Linked DNA regions of Homo sapiens. The protein of the gene in region 3 interacts with the protein of the main gene of each other region in a pairwise test. Each region holds a gene or a part of one and is shown on either strand. Other genes may lie near its edges.

Region 1 (3,857 bases), on a different chromosome or scaffold from region 3:
AATGCTGCATTCTTTTTCTATGAGAAAAACTCACTCTGTCAAACTACTACTTTGGTACCATAAAACTATTTTTTCTAAGCTATTTTCCAATGACTACATCTAATAAGAGAAACTTAATAGCATCTCCACTTAAGACGACTAAATTTAGTCATTATAAAATGTCACATAGGAAAATTTTCTTATGAAGAACATTTTGACTTTAATAATTACACAAATATCCTCCACATTTTTGCTTATGTCAACCCTAATCACTTTTATTCTTAGGAACAGGAACTACCTTTGTTCATTTCTAAAACTGAACAGCACATTTAATTAGTTTTACAGTGCATTTGCCTTTGGTAGTTTAGTTATAGCTTTAAACAATTCAATCAAATGTTTAATACTTCAAAATTAATTTGTCTGTATGAAGATGCATCTTATCCTGGGACCCTTGAAATACACTTAACTAATGGATGAATAAGATAATACAGAACATTGAATAAATCATTATAAGACGAAGCTTTTAAAAACATCATTTATTTAAGAGTTCATATAAAGTTACACTTATGTTCTGAAGGAGGCATTATGGTGGGACAAATATTAACAAAGCATGATTTAAATATATATATATTTAATGTGTGATATGTTTGTATATATATTTAAACACATGCAATTGTTCTACAATTTACCAGATTGGTGCCACAGTGAATAAAAGAGAAAGTAGACAGCTTTTGCTGGAAGATTCAACTAAAGTGCCTAATACGTGAAAATCTAAAACTAATATTAGAAAAATGTCACAAGAGATGCCCAGGCCTTCAGCTTTCTGGACCATGAAAGTGTCACCAAATTCAAAGAACATTTCTGAATGTACATCCAGTGACATCTGTTATGCAAAAGAGGAAAACTTTGTGAAACATTTCATAGCTTTGGTCAATGATTTACTTTTTGTCCATGTATTGATAAATCAGTCACTTCTGAGTTGACACTGATTTTCACTGACCACCTGCACTGTTAAAGAGTAAAGGAAATGAAAGCTACCATAATATAATAACAAAAAGTCAGTGCCTATGAGAGACAAAAGCATAGTGACCACTTTTTTCACCATTTGCCACTTGTTAGTGACATACACATGTACCACACCTACACACCCTTCACAACATTTTCCACACAATAGAAGATTTGTATAAGATCAAGTTTATTATTTCCAGTGCTTTCTGCAACTATTTTCTCAAAATATTCTTTCCCCCCAAGATGTTAGATAAGTCATATGGAATTGCAGTTTGGGGCTATTTTTGCAGAAATCCTGTTCAGAGGTCCCTTTCATCATCTGCATAATATTAATTTCACTTGGGCTTCCTGCTGCCCACATGCATCTCAGCCAGGCAGACAGAGGGGCAGCAGTTGGAATGAATATCATTCATTTAGGGAGTTCAACCAGGAAAAGGAGAAGATATGGCGAGCTGGCTCAGAATCAGCTCCACTGCCACTCGCTGGAGCTGCAGCCTGTCCCTGGAGGGGAGGAGCCTCAAATCCAATCTGCAATGGAAGAAAATGGGAATCAGAGAAAAAAGAGGTTTGTTCTTTTTGGATTGGTCCAGTCACTTTTCTATTGAGGAGAAAGTATAATAATAATAACAATTATTATTATAATAACAATATTATTATATGGCACATAATTATTAGAAATAGAAAGCAAGCTCAGATTATTTTGGCTACAGCCAAGAGTCATGAAAATAATTCACACTCATGATACAAAAAGAAGGAACAGTAATGCATGCAGTGGAGAGAAGTTCTTGGGAAAAAGGAGTTCAGGCTATTCTAGTTTTTTTTTTTTTTAAGTCCACTTGTACATGATTTATTCAGATGAAAGTCTCATTGAAACCTCTAGGAACTGGGTTTAGAAAGGGTTGCAGAATTTGAAAAAATTCCAAATTTAAATGGCACTGCTATGCCACATGACATTGTGGGACATATTAATATAATCCCTCCACTGCTGAAGAAGTTTCTAGCATGCATATACATATATATTTTCTTACTATAATTTTTACAAAACTACAGGCTTAATTTTGGGCAAATCATGATGGGATTTTTTTTTCTCTAGGTAATAAAATCTAATAACCATATCTATATTAAATCAAATCCAATATAAGCATGTCTAAAGAAATAATTATCTTTTGTAGGCACCTGAGATAGACAGGTTGCAATTCTGAATTTATTGATTAATCTATGTCATAAGCAAAATTTACTTATGTTGTTTTGCCTTTAAAAATCACAACTTAATGGAATGAGGGACAATCAGGAAGAAGTCTTGCTGAAATGCAATTTGATTTTATGAGCTCAAACTCTTTACATTTCAAGGTACCATGACAAACACCGTCCTTCCTAGGAGAACTATGGATAAATAAGCAAACATGTTCCGATGACATCACTGGTAAAATTATCCCACCAGATTAGAATGCCACTGATTTCAAAGCAGTGAGGTAGCCACATGCATTCAGCTCAGAAGCCCTGGATGATTTTATGAAGCTGCGATATGAATGGATAATACCTGGCACAAGTAAAGCAGAACTTTGGTTAAGTATGTTGTTTTACTGCCACTCAAAATAGTCTTGAGAGCAAAATGAGTTATTGGCCTGCACTTTACCAGATTTTACCCTAAACATATGTTTGGGGATGATGTTTCAAGAGCAATAAAATTATCCTAAGTCTTTATGGCTTTGGGATAATCCTTTGTACTGCCACATTGCTTCCTGATAGAAAGTTAAAAAGGGCCATGAAATCATATTAGCCACAGTAGAATAAAACTGAAATAGGTAGTTTTCTATGAAGGAATAGTGGAAACATCAAGCGAAATTGGGCTTTTTGAAAAAGAACGTTACTAGATTCTGTTGGTAATGTGTCAGATACCTCAATGTCCTTGAAAGTGAAGTAAAATAAACATTATCCTGACAGAATCCTGCACCTATTTTTACACGTCCAACTCCTTCCTTGCCCACCATAATCCTCTTACCCTGGCTAATAAACAAACAAACAAAAAACAAACCCTTAAGTCTCATGTATGGCTTATGCAAAAAACAACAACAACAAAAAACCCCGAAAGCCCAAATGACCTGGGCATATATAAAAAGACTTATTTTTAACCATTCAATTTGAGCAAATAGCGAATTCCGCCTGGATGAACAGACCATCAAGGTCCATTTTGTGGCCTCTTTTTCTTGAAGGCAGTTTCTAATCTAAAGGGAACTTCCATGGCAGCTGTTCTGACATAGTTGAAGGGTGACACAAGTTGGGTAATGTGTTTTCTGCAGAAGGCAGAACCTTTGGGAAACTGCTGGTAGCGAACAAGCCCCTGGGACTGCTTTTGGAATATGTATAAATTTTTGTGCTTTCCTCTACTAGAGATTGACATCTATCTTCCATTTAAAATGTTTTAGTTGTTAACCCACTATTGCCTTCATATTTGGGATTACATAGTTTGGGTTGGCTTCTCTTACACTTCCATGTTTCCAGGAAATTATTAAGTTTTCCTCCAAACAATATGGACCAATGCTATCTTTCAGAAAAGAAAAGCCAGTACCAGAGTGGGGGGTTATCCAATAGCAGAGGTTATCCTGAGTATCTTTAGATAATTGCACCATCTCCTTGGTCTTGTTTATATCCACTGAGGACCCAACAACCAGCTCAGCAAAGAAAGTTCTGTGCAAAGAGGCTTAGCCTAGTTTTGAATCCCACACAAACTACTTATTAGCTGTATGACTTGGACAAGTTAGTTAACTCTCTGAGCCTTAGTTTTCTCTTCTGTAAAATAGAGATGAGAACCTACCTTACAAGGTTGTCGTAAGGACTGAATAAAGTAATACACATAAAGCACTTTACAC
Region 2 (6,953 bases), about 47 Mb from region 3:
GGTGAGTAGGCCATTTTCTTATTATTATTTTAATCGAATTGGTAAAAGTAAGAATGTAGGAAAGAAAGTAAAGATTTCGTTTGAGTGGGAGAAAAAAGACTGGCTCCTACGAAGCGTATTATGTATGTTTTTGTATCCAGAGGATGACAAACATGTAGGGAAGCGCTAGTGAAAGACACTGCAGCCAGAGCTCAAAGGTACTATTTAATCTGAAAGACAGAGAAGAAATATTGTAAAAAATAAATCCTATGGCCCATAGAAAGTCTCATGGAAGGCAATCAAGAAGACTTCAAGAATCTAGGATCAAAAAAGAAAAAGGGTTTGGTGGTTGTCACAAAAGTGATAGGCATAGGAGGTTTTATATCACTCTCAAGATCTCACCATTCATAATGAACCAAACTGTTATAAAGGAAATCCCAAATGGGAAAACTTCGTCAATCCCTATCAACTCAAATATTTATTTTTTAAATGCAAAAATTTAACACTTTCATTCTTCTTCAGCTTCTTACTATTTGTGTCATTTTTAAGGTAATTAAGGATTTGAAAAAAGCTAACTTCCCTAATTAAATTGACATAATACATTTGCTAGATTGAGAGAGCAGTAGGTGTCCCAAGGGATCTCAAGATCAAGTTCTAGTTCAAGCACTTTGTTGGGAGGCTCTATTGGGCCCCTCCCTGAGAGTGGAGTGCACTGTGACTCCGAGTGGAGGTCTCCGTAGCAGGGAGCCTGCACAGAGCTTGTCAAGGTGACTCTGGTTATACATGAACTCTGAGAACTCTATAGCTACTGCAGGTAAATAGTCCCACCAACCTTTGTTCCCACCAAAAATATATCTGCTGAAATTGTTCTTAAATTTCTAAACAGACCATTTAGTCTCTACCTAAGTTGTTCCCTTTAAGCAAATGGGTAATGTTATAGTAGTTTTAAAAGCATTTGGTCAACCATGAAGCACCACAGAGATATTTTAAAAAATATCATCCCCTAGGAGAGGGGAAAACCTGTTAAGAAAACCCTTTCATTTTTCTATCTTGTTATCTAACACCATGAGACCAGCAACATCTTTGTCAAATCTCAATGTGAATGAAAAAAAAATTAATTGTTCTAGGGTTGGCAGGAGCATTTGACTTATATTTTCAGGTTAGTGAACTGAGTCTACTATTCCTATTACGTGTAGGAACTAACTGTTGAAAAATTGAACTCTCACTTTTTCACATACCAACATTAGTTCATTAAAACCCTTTCAAAATGGAACCTGATTTACCTGTTGTCTCATATGTTCAAAAGCAAATTTGCAAAAACTACCACTATGAATTCCAAAACCAGCTTGGACAAAAACTCATTCAACTTCTTGTGTCCATAAATTGTGGTTCTGTGTCTGTTCTACTGAAAGTGCCTTTGTAAGCATATTGTAGTAGTGTCTATATTATAAATTGTAGATATATGGAAGACTGGGGTTTTAACACATTATTATGAGTTCCAGTAGCATTAGCCATATACTATAAGTGGGGATAGAGACACACTTCCAGAATTTGGATAGTGTTCAACTGTTTGTTTCATAGTCCATTATTATAAGATTCTGTAAGGCCTATAATTTTATCTCTTGACACCTCTGTAAGTATATTATCCATATATTTCAGATTTCTTGGGATGGCCTTGATTTTAAATATTTTGCTTGTTGTCAAATCATGTGTCGGACAGTATATCTTATTTTCTGTTTTAAAAAATATGTTTATGATAGCTGTAAGTATAGACATTCTCAATTTCCTAGAAAAGGATTATGAATTTTATGTGAACTCAAGAGCTGTTATTATTAAGGAGAGACTATAAAGTTATGACAAATTTTTAATTTAGTGTTTGTAGGATTCATTTCATTATTACTAAAGTAAAAGTAATTGAATCATACTTTTTTGAGAAAGAAAACTGGATGACTGTGTTGTTTCTTTCAAGCTGATGTTAATATCTTTAATAAGCATATAAAAATCTGTTGATAAGTTACTAAAATTCCTTAACACCATTACTGTAATGTTCACTTTTGAGGACTGGAAATACATAATAATCCATCTTTTCTCTGTCTTTGCTTATACAGTTTTTAAAATTTAACTCAAGATGTGCATCTATTACTGCTAATAGTGCAATGTACCAGGCCAAACATTTGCCACTGACTGTCAAGTGTCTTTCTGATGCAGCTGAAAAGGGAGAGAGAGAAAGAGACGGAGAGAGAGAGAGAGAGAGAAAGGAGAAAGAAAGAGCAATGTCCCTTGAGCAAGACTTTCTGCAGCTGTTGTGTACATTAATCCAGGGAGCAGATCTCCCAACACTAAATATAGCAAGCGTATCCTTTTACATGATAAAAAAATTTAAAATGAAAGTCTTTATGCAGGCATATTATTTTAGATTCAACTTCCTTTAAAAAGGAAACTGGCATTGCTTACATATTCTCTATATAAACAACATTCTTTTAATAAATGAATGTGTGGAAAATGCCAATGAGATATGCAACATGTCACAACTTCTTCTGTTGAGATATTTTTCCTTAGGAACTCAAGTAGTCTGTGATCTCTGTGAGTCTCATCAATCCCCTCCAAAATCTTTACATGTGGAAAGCTTTATTTTTCACTTAATTTCGTGTCCCGTCATATGTAATTAGACAGTTATCCTAGGTTTCATTTCAAGTAACAGTAATGAGTTCTTTGAAATATTCGCTTTTCCACTGTCAGTGCCCTGTTATCAAAACACACTTGTGAACTTAAATCTGGATATTACCTTTCTTTTTTTAGTTGACCCAGATGAGGATGTCCAATCCAGGCACTCCACTGCAATGATAATTATCCAGGGAGAACTTTTAGATGAAAGCACAGGAGAAGAGGGAAATTCTTCACGCCCTTGGAAATAGAGAGTAGCCGTCCATAGAGAGTGAGGAGTTAACCTTAGTTTCAGTGAAGATGGCTGTAAGAAGCTGGACAACCTGTCACCACCGGAGCCAGAGCATTTGTCAGCTCACAGGTCCCAAGTTATTTTGAGCTGTATAAACCATGTGCCTGTGAAACATTCCACCTGATTGGACAGGAGAAAACTGAGCAAAGGGATTCCATAGCAGGACAGCACCTATGGGGGTGGGGGTCAATCAGTTCTTTTACCTATAGAATTTCCCTTATAGCTAGAGGCCCATGTTATTTATTGATTGACGTTTGGAATGAACACTAAATGCATTATACCATAGTTCATCATTCAAAAAAATGGCATTATTTTTAAATGTATGAAAACTCTTCATTTTAATTTTTAAGATCTTTAATTTTAATCAATAGGAAATTTACTCTCATTAAATCACTGATACATTTTAGGACATTTGGCTATGAAAAGCCAACCTGAAGCTAAGGTCTAACGTTTTAAAGCTGAGAGCTTTTTTGGATTGTTCGTCCAAAGGCTAAGCAAAAGCAGACAAGGTAACTAACGTTAAAAATTCCTTGGCTGGGCGCAGTGGCTCACTCCTGTAATCCCAGCACTTTGGGAGGCTGATGTGGGCAGATCACCTGAGGTCAGGAGTTCAAGACCAGGCTGGCCTACATGGCGAAACCCCGTCTCCACTAAATATACAAAAATTAGCCAGGTTTGGTGGCGCATGCCTATAAATCAGCTACTCAGGAGGCTGCGGCAGGAGAATCACTTGAACCGGGGAGGTAGAGGTTGCGGTGAGCCGAGATCACGCTACTGCATTCCAACAAGGGGGACAGAGCGAAACTCTGTCTCAAAAAAAATAATAAAATTAAAAATAAATAAATAAATAAACTTGAAAAAAGTTAACCTGATTGCTTAGTATAGATTAAATGATGCTATAACATTATCAATCATGGTAGAAGACAGGACTTTGAAAATTCAGACTTAAATGATGGTTATTATTCTTTAAAAAGATCATTCTTAGATTCTGATAGCATGAAACACATTGGTTTAAATCTAGCTTTCTTAATTAAGTCATACAACTGCTTATAGGGTTTCTTCCTAGTCATTCATTCATTTGATAATTATTTTCGTAATGCCTACTGTGTACCAGGTACTGAGTATAAAACAGTGCACAAAATACACAAAAATTTCTGACCTCGTGGAATTTACGAAGAGATCTTTATCCTCTTCAGTCATCGTGAGACTATTGATAGTACATTGAACAGATATAAAATTTCTTTGCTTATTGTGATCACATTGGAGGTTTAATTACACCTTTTTTATGTGGTTTTATGCTTACACAGGCAAAAAAAGATGAAGAACACTTTTAAATAATTCAGATTGAAATAACTGGTATTGAGGAGAGAAGAGGATACAGGAGGAAATGAATTATCTGTACAGGTTATTCTCATTACCACAGTAACCCAGAGCTTCAATGTACAGATTTATTTTTTCTCTTACCTAATCTTGTGCTGATACTAATGTCAAGACCACTTAATTGTCCTTCTGCATATTCTATTTATGTGGATATGCCAACAATTTCTTTTTATTTAAAAAGAGGATCTTCCTCCACTATCCCACTCAGATCTTAAGCCGTAATCAATGTTAAGTGCTGCTGGGTCTTGGGTAGGTCTCTCCCATGGGAGAATAGAACCTCTATTTCAGGTGGCTAGTAAAGGCAATGTTTAAACACACTATAAGTAAACACATTTTTACTTTCCTGCAAACTGCCATGATAAGCCTGGTATTCTACCTTTCACCCAGGTATAGAATACTAAGGTTGAAGGAGACTCATACTAAAAGGTAGAATAAAGCTGGTTGGGCAGTGAAATTAGGAATCTATATGAAGAATTAAAGTAGGTTTAAAATGCAAAAGAAGAGTTACAGAAAAAAGAAGCCGGCCGGGCGCGGGGGATCACGCCTGTAATCCTAGCACTTTGGGAGGTTGAGGCAGGCGGATCGCCTGAGCTCAGGAGTTTGAGACCAGCCTGGGCAACGTAGCGAAACCCCATCTCTACTAAAAATACAAAAAAAAAAAAAAATTAGCAGGGCGTAGAGGTGCATGCCTGTAGTCCCAGCTCCTTGGGAGGCTGAGGCAGGAGAGTCTCTTGAACCTGGGAGGCAGAGGTTGCAGTGAGCCGAGATGGTGCCATTGCACTCCAGACTGGGTGACACAGCAAGACTGTCTCAAAAAAAAAAAAAAAAAAAGAAAAGAGAAGCCAAAGACATTCTGAATGGCAGTCATCTTTCTCTTTTCATTTTTACTGCAACATTTTCAAATACAGATACCATACACAATTTTTGAGCTCTTTGAAAAAAAGCTGAATATAAATGTTTTAAATAAATAATATTTAGTAATTGTGAACACTCTGGTTATAGTACATCAAACATATTTTAGATTTTAGTTTTTAAAAACTAATTTCTGCTTCCAAATAACCCAGCTCCTGCCTTGCTTATCTTCAGTTGTAATTGTATAAACATTATATCACAAACCTACTAGTTCAAGATTTCATCAGAGTTTATTGATACAAAAAATAATCTTTAAAACTTTCTAATGCCCAACATAGTTAAAAACAAACTTTGTTAAGTGGCAAGCAAACACAAGGTTGGTTACATGTCTTAAGCCTTCCCCATAAAGTTGAGTGGCTCATCCAACACATGTGTTTCTTGTGGTTTGAACACGATCCTGTGCTTGCCTTCAGCTGTTTTCTTAATTCAGTCAGTCAGCCACAGAAACAATTTACTCACATTGGGATGATCCACAGGAATGCCAAGGAATCTGGAAGTTCTATGGCAGAGGAAGTCTTCACTTGGACGGTAAGCATGGGAGAATTTCCATGCTAGTAGATTCATATAAAATGTTTGCATTTGCTATTTTTTTATATCGCTATAGGCTCCAGTTCTCTAAAACAAATTACTCACATATACCAAAGCTTCAATAAGTTTTGCTTGAAGTTCATAGATTCATCTTGACATATCCAGTATCAGATGAAAAAACTAAACAAAACCTCTATGCCGTATTTTTGAAAAACAGAGAAAGTATGTATTTTTTAGCCATTTTTAATGAGAAAAATTTTCACAGCAAAGACAAGTTCTTGACTATCCAAAACAATAGATGGGTGGTGGATTATAAAAGATCTTATATAAAAGGCATGACAACAATATAATTGAAAAAGACAATGAAATCACTAAGAAATTTCTTTTTCATCTAAACTACTGAAAATGCTTGCCTGGGAAAACTAAAAACATTAAAAAAAAAAACTAAAAGTTCAAAACCCACTTAGTTTTAAAAACTAAAAACATTTTTAAAAACTAAACAGAACACCCACTTTAAAACATTATCCTGAGAAGTAAATTTGTGGTTACCTGTCTCAGGAGAAGCACCATTCCTATATCAATCAACCAGGATCATCTAAAGTCCAAATCTCACTGCCTAACTTGTGTCAGACACAAAAGTGCCATGAAGGAAATGTGATACTGCCCCGCCAGAGTAATGAAGGGTATTTACAGGGTTCCGTTGCAGATCCAGGGACAGTCATTTAGAACAGATTGCTCTTTCAGATCAACTTTAATAACTCAGTCTGCACGATGTTCTTAGCCTGCAGGGCTGGTGGGGGTGGATAATGACTAAGATGACTAAGGAAATAGGCTTTCTTGATTTCTCCTTAGTCTAAATGAAAATAAGAGTGAAGAAATTCTCAAGAATAAAGCATATGGAATACATAAGATATCTATACACAGGATGCATATTACATGTATAAATATCTTTATCTGGTACCAAACTGGGACTATGGTCAAGGCATTTATTAAGGTAAATACGAAAAAACAATCAATTATTACAACACTTCCTGTTTGTTCCCCTAATTTTAAGGTGATTAAATTAAAGCTTTACTGTGTGGTTTGCATTAAAACACAACAAAGCTTCCTTTACTTGTTCTTTTGGTATGTAGTACATATCAAAGTTTACACTTTTCAAAAAGTATTATTTCCAAGAAGAAAATCTATTCAGAACTTT
Region 3 (8,720 bases):
GAATGGACTTCACAAGAGTTCTCTTGTAATGACTTCATTCTGGCGTTTCTTTTAAAGCATGTTGCCTTATGATTCCATTACTTTTATTTGTGGAATTTATGGTTAATTTTGATATTGAAGAGGAAAGCATTTATTGAAGACATATTTAAACAGTACCAGCAACAACTTGTGCTTGCTAAATCAGACCCATCGGAATGTGGGCGTATATGTAAGCGTGAAGGTTGATGTAATCAACTGTGGAAAAAAATGTGTAAAAAGATGGTGCTAATTTTGAGCCTTGTCCTTTGTGGTATTTCAGTGGAGCCCATTGTGCTATCTGTTAAAGTTCTTATTTATCCTTCTTAGGTAAAATATAAGGGAGAACTTCAACGGGGAACTGCAATTTCTGATCCACCAGAGCTGAAGAGGGCAAAAGAAAACCAGAAAAACATCAGCAATGTGTGATCATCTTAGTAACTTTTTTCTTACACTATCAAATGCATTGTCCACGTGTGAATGAAGGGATTGTATTTATAGAATTTTCATAACCTTGAGCTGATGTCCTGTTCTCATTTGACTAACAACTTATTTGAAAGATTTCGGGGACTTTGGTATTGTGGGTACAGTCAGGTGTTCCCCACCTCAGGGTTCCCAGTGACTCATCAGGATGACTTTTTTCTTTTTGTTTTTTTGAGACAGGGTCTTGCTCTGTCACCCAGACTGGAATGCAGTGGCACAATCTTGACTCACTGCAACCTTTGCCTTCTGGGTTCAAGTGATCCTCCCAGCTCAACCTCCCAAGCAGCTGGGATTACAGGCACATGCTGCCACACCTGGCTAATTTTTGTATTTTTTGTAGAGACGGGGTTTGGGCTGGTCTCAAACTCCTGAGCTCATGCAATCCGGCCACCTTGGCCTCCCAAAGTGCTGGGATTACAGATGTGTGCCACCGGGCCTGGGTGACTTTTTTTGACAGGTTGTTGTGTATCCCTTCTATCTTGTCATCTAGCTGATGGGTGCTATGGTCTCCTCAAGTCCCACAGTCGTAGCTTCTGGCATCCTGGCCCTACAAACAAACATTTTCCCTCCCTTTTCTACCAGCATGTGTTCCTGTTCTTGCGCTTCCTCCGAGCCCCACTTTCCACTTCCCACAATCATGACTCCATTTTTGGGCAAAGTCTAGGAAGAAATGATAATGTGTGCATGGCTGAATAGGTTATATTGGACAGGACCATTTTGGGGGCACTTAATAAGGGGCTGGCAGTTTTTACCTAGACACCAACTTGTGGCCTGCTCCGATTCCCTGTTGTTGAAATAATTCACGGATGCAGTTCAAGAAGAAAGTCCTCTTTTACAGTCATTAACATATAGATTGGGTTCTTTGGAAGAGGAAACTTGGAAATCTATTACGTTCAAAGAAATCTTTTATTCTTCACACCTTTAAAGTCATTTTACCAGTTTATAATGCAAAGGCAGGTGATTGATACTTTTCCTAACAACTATATTTTAGAGAAGTAGACGCTCATCTTTCCCCCATATATTTAGAGTCATACTTGATGTGACTCCATTATTCTCAAAAAGGAACATGGTTATTTAGACAAGGAGTGGACCAGTGAGAAGCATGCTGGCTTTTTAAAGGATGCCCACAGTCACCTATTTAAACACATCTTTACAAAAATTCTGCCGCAGTTAATTCCTAAGAAACCACGACCATGTAGTACCAGTCTACGGTGAATACCTTTAAGTAATCTCCATGAAGACATTTATTCTCATTTCCTTTTGTGGTTAAATATTTATTACAGCTTTACGGATGGTATGCCTATGTATTCGAGTACATCCACAGTGATTTGGACACATGTACTCTCTTATGGGATGAAATGAAATAGATTGATTTAAGATGCCAGCATTTTAAATACAACTCAACCTCTGAAAATATTTTTTGTAGTTTCCTACAAAACTTCCCTGACTAACTCATTAAAATAAATACTGTGAGCCAGGCACTGTGGCTCAGGATTGTCATCCCAGCACTTTGGGAGGCTGAGGTGGGTGGATCACTTGAGCCCAGGAGTTTCAGGTCAGCTTGGACAACATGGCAAAACTCAATCTCTACAAAAATACAAAAATTAGCCAGGCATGGTGGCAGGTGCCTGTAATCCCAGCTACCTGGGAGGCTGAGGTGGGAGGATTGCCTGAGCCTGGGAGATCGAGGCTGTGGTGAGCAAAGATTGTACCACTGCACTTCAGCCTGGGTGACAGAGCAAGACCCTGTCTTAAATAAATAAATAAGTCTCTTTGTTGAATTGATTCATAGTATTCTATTTTTTGTTCTCTGAAATGATAGGTTTATTACAGAGGTCAGCTGGGAAGAGCTACCACTTTAAGTGTAACTCCTGAAATGGAAAGAGTGAAGAAGAATCAAGAAAATATTAGCTCGGCAAGTGGTTTTCTTCATTTTAGACTATCACAAAGGATGTGTCTTTTATTATTTACTTGCGGTCCTCCTTTGCTTGTGAAAATAAAACTTATTTTCAAGAAACATTTGTGATGTGTCCAATAAGTACATGTGTTATTTCAGATGACTTCCAAAAGCTGCCACTGCAAACATTTACATTATTTTGCAACTCTTTGTTATTTCCAGATGTGACCAACAGTTACATTCAAAGCTTAGGTTAAAATTATATTCATTTAAACAACGATTCATGATATGTTAGCCGTGTCTTTGAAGGTGGTAAAGCCTTTGATGTGTGCGTTAAATAATTGTCATTTTCCTGAAATATTTCATTGAACATGGATTGTTAAATGCTGTCTGCAAAACAAAATAGGAGATGGATCATTACCCCCACTAAAGACTTACAGAAAAGAATCCTTAAATACAGTTAACGTAGAATTCAGTTGCTCACCAAAGTCCAGTGGTGTACATGAGTATCTTATCTGAATATTGTGCTTCCTCTTAGTGAATATCAGGGCTTCAATTCTGAATTGTACATAATGCCCTCAGGTCCACAGTAAGTGGTATCCATATCTTACACCTAATCAGTTTCATAAATGGCGGTGTTCTGATGGGCAGTTGTGAAGAACACAGGCCCTTTTCTTAGCATACCCTGAATAGCTGTTTGCCTGAGAATCAGCATTTAGGCTTTGCAATTTACAGCTTCCTAGTGACATTTCTGTCCAGAGATGCTGTGTGTATTTAACATAAATTACCTTTAAGTTGTGGCTGCTTAGAAGAACAACTAAATTTGTTCCTCATTGTTTCTTATTCCCTAAGCAGAGAAAAAAATAAAAAGAAATAGAGTAGCTTGTATGCATTTTTTAACACTCTTATGGTAGAAAATTGGGAAATTTAGAAACAAAATAACTTTGGGTTCTATTTAATAGTTTTGGATTTTCTCTGTTTAACTTAAATATGATAACCAGTTGTGTGTGTGTGTGTGTGTGTGTATGTGTGTATGTGTGTGTTTGAGACACAGTCTCTGTTGCCCGGGCTGGAATGCAATAGCACAATCATAGCTCATTGCAGCTTTGAACTCCTGGGCTCAAGCAGCTGTCTTGTCTTAACCTCTCAAGTAGCTGGGACTACAGGCACACGCCCAACTAATTTTTTTTTTTTTTTAATTTTTACCTGTAGAGATGGGGGGTTTCACTGTGCTGCCCAGCCTAGTCTCAAATCCCAGGCCTCAAGTCATCCTCCCACCTTAGCTTTCCAAAGTGCTGTGATTACAGATACGAGTCCTCGGGCTTGCGCAGGTTTACAGACTAGATAGATAGTTACTATTGGTCATTCACACATTTGTTTAGAGTTGATAGATTTAGGTCATTTAGCAGTAGGCGGTGGAGGAGATCTTTGATTGTAAAATTTTAGGTTGCTATTCTAGAACAAAATTTAATTCACTGAAATAGTTACCTGGAAAATAATTTCAAGTATGTTGCATATGTTTCACTCATTTGTAAAGCTTAAAAATGTTACATCATGTGTTTTCTTATCATTGTCTTATGCCTACTATTTACTTTGCAGGTAAAATATACCCAGGACCATAAACAGATGAAAGGTAGACCAAGTCTGATTTTAGATACACCTGCTATGAGACATGTTAAAGAAGCACAAAATCATATTTCAATGGTAGGGTCCAACCAGATCATTCTTAAAACATGCTAAGGAATGGGCGGATCCAGTGCACGGATGGCATTACTTCACTATTAATCCGATAACTAACAAAGCATGGAAATGTGGTTGGCTTGTCTTTTGAGGGAGGGGCATTTCTAATCACACTGAAATGCAGTGGAAACATTTAGTCTAATAAAATGATTTTTCTCAGTGACTTTTTCTGGTGTGTCTTTATTTCTAACGTGACTACTGTAAACTCATAGTGTGAAAGATATTTGTGTAGACTTCTTTCCAATTAATTCTAAGACAAAATTTGGTCTGTTTGCCTGTCATAAAGGATATGAAAAGAAGTGTGTTTTTAAAGCTGTGTTTTTAAAAATGTGTGTTTTAAAAATTATATTATCAGATGTAATTTACCTACCATAAAGTTTGCCCATTTAAAGTGTTCAATTCAATGGTTTCTAGTATAATTTACAGTTACACAACTATCTCCTGGACCTAATTTCAGGACATAAAAAAAGTATATTTTGAAGTATAAGTTTTTGTAATTATATTAAAAGTGGTATATATTGTTACCTATAAAATTTCAAACTGATTTTAAATAATGCCATTTTCATGAATGATTGCCTGGAAATAGATATCACTTTATTGCATACTGAAGTTGAAGAGATAGGAAATTTAATTTATATTTAAATTAGTATATTTTAGGAAGTAACCAGGATTTGAGAATATGTATTTTTACAAGCTCTCATTAATAATATATATATAGTTTTATATATAATTTAAAATAGATATGAGCTATAATGATTAAAAACTTTGTGAAAATATCAGCACTTGATTTCTGATGCTAAGAAACTGAAGTTCCAGACTTTAGTTTTGGAGTATTTGGAAAAGATACATACATGTAGACAATCTGCACGCAGCCAGTGCAGTGTACACCTGTCATTTAATAAAAATGTTGTGAAAGAGGTAACTATCCGCAAAATTCAGTATGATGATTTTTCCTTTTTCAGGTAAAATACCATGAAGATTTTGAAAAAACAAAGGGGAGAGGCTTTACTCCCGTCGTGGACGATCCTGTGACAGAGAGAGTGAGGAAGAACACCCAGGTGGTCAGCGATGCTGCCTATAAAGGGGTCCACCCTCACATCGTGGAGATGGACAGGAGACCTGGAATCATTGTTGGTAAGCTGACGGCGTTTGTCGGCCGGTGTGTGTGGTCGAAAAGATCATGCTTGCTCTAGCTTCAGAATTACCCTCTTGAGTCATCTGACTCCTCATCACATGTTGGTTGTGGTACCCAATTTAAAATGGACCGCAGGTAAAGTATTATTTTTGTACGATGTGGAATGGGATTTCTGGCATTCACCTGGTATCATCTCAAGTCTTTTCTATTATTGGAAGCTCTGTCTTTAATACCTTGCTAATTTTAAGAATGTTCCTCCTTGTATCACACACCAGGGCCTGTTGTGAGGTGGGGGGAGGGGGGAGGGATAGCATTAGGAGATACACCTAATGTAAATGACGAGTTAAGGGTGCAGCACACCAACGTGGCACATGTATACGTATGTAACAAACCTGCATGTTGTGCACATGTACCCTAGAACTTCAAGTATAATAATAATAAAAAAAAGAATGTTCCTCCTTGTTAAGCAAAGAAGCAGCAGAGATATGAGTGATCACAATGGTTGAACAATTACTTTGTTTTTCTTTAAAAAGAAAAACAAAATAATTGTTTTTCTGCTTGGTTGACGTGTTGTTCTGTTGACCTCATGTGCATAAGTGGCAGAAATAACCATATTGCGTTTAGGTCCTTTTATCAAAAACAGACACGCCATGGGCGTTCTGATGGTACTCCATAATAGTAATAGCTCATTTTAAAAATATTATTTCTGGACTGGAATAGTTGAGAGCCATCTGAAAGTCTTGCAATTAAGAGAGCAAACTTTTATTCCTGCTATCTGTTCCTTATAGTCAGGAGAAATCCTAGAAGGATATTTGTTGAATGGTGGCTGAGATATCAGAAAAGATCATACTGAAGTATAAGGCAGGGCTAGGAAGGATGATTATTGATTTTTCAGTCTGTATCAACAACTGAAGACTATTGTCTCCTTCAGAGCAGTTAACCTCTGAATTATGTAGTTACGTAGCTTAAAGAATATTTTTGGTATATGCCACTCAGTAATATCAGTGTTAGGTTTTCTTCATCTTCAAAAGTAGGAGCTTATTTTTTGGTACTAGTGAAAGGCCATTTAGAGATAAGCTAAATTTGACAGGGTAATGTCTTTACAAAACCAGGGTGCTAAAGTCAGAGCAGCACTAAGTAACTTGGATGATTATACTAAAGTGACTCTGGAAGTATTTTCTGAAGAAGGATTCCAAACATGTTTGTAGGCAATTGATAGCTTTGCTGATCTGCCTGAGTTGATTACTTAAAAGGATCACATTAAGTTGGATGGATGAGTTGTGATGTTTTCATTCAATGTGACACCAAATTAGAGTTTCATTGCTTTGTGCTAAAGGGATGGAACTATCTTAAGGGATAGTGCAGGGGTTCTGATTTATCTCACTTAGGGTGGAACTGCTAAAGTCTGTACAGCTTACTTCCAGGCCCTGCACACATCAGAGGTCAGGAATGATGGTGAGGTCGTTGCTAAAAACCATGAAACTGTCTAGACCGTGGGCTCTCAGAATTCAGTACTCAAAACCATTGAGGTTGAAATTATGATTGTTTTATAAAATATAAGATGTATGACTCTAAGTTATTTACTTACTTGGCAATCCAGAAGTCAGTTTATTTGTTCTTATTGGGAAGAACTGTTTTCCATTGAAATTTCCATAATTGGCCAACATTAAACTTTCCAATGAGCCAGCTTCTGTATCAGGCATGAAAATACACGTTTAGAGATTTTCTGAGTAATTCAGATTAAGCCAATTTGTGCTGCTTCTATTTTTGTTGGAGGCTCTGCTACTTCTTACGAGCTGTGTAACCTTGGCCAAGCTACTCAATTTCTCTGTGCCTCAGTTTCCTCATCTACAAAATGAGGATAATATGTATGAAACTTAAATTAATTAGGTGTTAAATGAGAAGAGTGCCTGGCATATGGTCAGCACTACATAATATTAATTAAAAACAGACAAGCAAATTTCCAGTTCCATTTTACAAATTAATTGTTTTTGCTGTAGCCCCATTTCTGCCGTATGTCTATAACTAGGTTTTTCTTTTCCAGTTGTTGGTACAGCTGTAAACAGCTTATTTTAGGATCTGATGCCCTTTTGTTGGAGAGACTGGTGAATTCAGAAGTTATTAAAATAAGAGGAGAATAAAGTGGTTTGCACAGTCTGATCACTGACTATGGCAGGGATCCATTGACAGCAGGAAGCTGATATTATTTCTCTTTTCATTCATCATATTTCCTTGCTGTGTGCCTTGCTTATAACACTTTTTAAATAAGTGTATCTAATAAGATATGCATTCCCTAAGATACACTTAGCTTGCACTCACAGACTCAGAATGAAAACTAGGCTTGCCACCATTCCACATTTTAAATATTCATTTCTGTTATAGAAAGGGACTTTTTTTTTGTTTGTTTTGTTTTTTAAACATAAACTTCTCAATTGTTTCCTATGAATTACTCACATGTCCTGAATCAGAAACTATAATCAAACATTTTGCTTGTTTCAGCCTGTGGAGAGCAAGAGTGACTGGGGATTCAGGGGTGCTGTGAGGGGATGCATATAGCTGCCCCATGTGCTCCTGTGTTGTGTGATGGGTCACAGGTACTTCAGCAAGGTCTGATAGGGCAGCTCAATGAATAGAGCAGGCAACTTCAATCTGATTACAAAGATTTCTTAACAGATACTTGTGAAAGCAAGTATTTTTTCATTCTCTTCTGAAGTCAGCAGCACTGTGAGTTTGTCTGTTACATGTTTGCTTCTTATATCTATTCCTTTGCAGACTTTGTCTTGACTCTTTTGGGTACTGGCTTTTTTTTTTTTTTTTCCTTTTTTAAATTCCTTCTTGATGAGTGTTGATTTCTTCCTTTTGGCAAAAGACCTCAAAGTTTGGCGCACAGATCCTGGCTCCATCTTCGACCTTGATCCCCTGGAAGACAATATTCAGTCTAGAAGTCTCCATATGCTCTCTGGTATTACTCACTTTTTAGTTCATCCCATTTATGTGGTTTTGTCCCAAAAGTGAACCACTGTGAACTGTAGAGGTTCATTGTACTGTGTAATGTAAATTTTAAAGCTGAGAATTTGGCAAACCAAAAAAATGCTATGCTACTTTTAAATACAATTAGTCATTTATGAAAAGAAAACTTTTTAATATATCTTAATTAGTCTGTCCTAGATTCATTTAAATAAGCTTTTTATTAGTAAGAATGCTTTTATATTATTTCTGGGTTTACAAATACAGTTATTTGGATTGCACTAAAGTGCTGAGACAAAAGGAGGTTTGTTTCATGAAATACATTGTTATAATTTTTTAAAGGTAGATTTAAAGAATTATATATAGAACAGTAGAAAGGTTTTTTACAGGGCATCATAGATGTCTTAAAATAAATTTTCAAGTATCTTTAAAATTTTCTTTGACATTTTATATAATGTAAAATGAATAGTTTACATGGCAAGC

What was found.
Region 1: the proteins of NEBL (region 3) and TRIM55 interact in a two-hybrid assay, tested with the Homo sapiens proteins (one study listed by BioGRID).
Region 2: the proteins of NEBL (region 3) and MYPN interact in a two-hybrid assay, tested with the Homo sapiens proteins (one study listed by BioGRID).

The regions. Positions count from the first base shown.
Region 1 is NC_000008.11:66,172,129-66,175,985, reverse strand, and holds the end of TRIM55 (tripartite motif-containing protein 55), read right to left. Parts: intron 1,516-3,857; coding exon 1,393-1,515; 3' UTR 501-1,392; downstream 1-500. UniProt on the Homo sapiens protein: E3 ubiquitin ligase that plays an important role in regulating cardiac development and contractility, muscle growth, metabolism, and fiber-type differentiation.
Region 2 is NC_000010.11:68,105,535-68,112,487, reverse strand, and holds the start of MYPN (myopalladin), read right to left. Parts: upstream 3,001-6,953; 5' UTR 2,765-3,000; intron 1-2,764. UniProt on the Homo sapiens protein: Component of the sarcomere that tethers together nebulin (skeletal muscle) and nebulette (cardiac muscle) to alpha-actinin, at the Z lines.
Region 3 is NC_000010.11:20,809,318-20,818,037, reverse strand, and holds part of NEBL (nebulette), read left to right. Parts: intron 1-345; coding exon 346-438; exon of another isoform or gene 439-533; intron 534-2,320; coding exon 2,321-2,413; intron 2,414-3,994; coding exon 3,995-4,099; intron 4,100-5,097; coding exon 5,098-5,269; intron 5,270-8,139; coding exon 8,140-8,232; intron 8,233-8,720. UniProt on the Homo sapiens protein: Binds to actin and plays an important role in the assembly of the Z-disk. May functionally link sarcomeric actin to the desmin intermediate filaments in the heart muscle sarcomeres.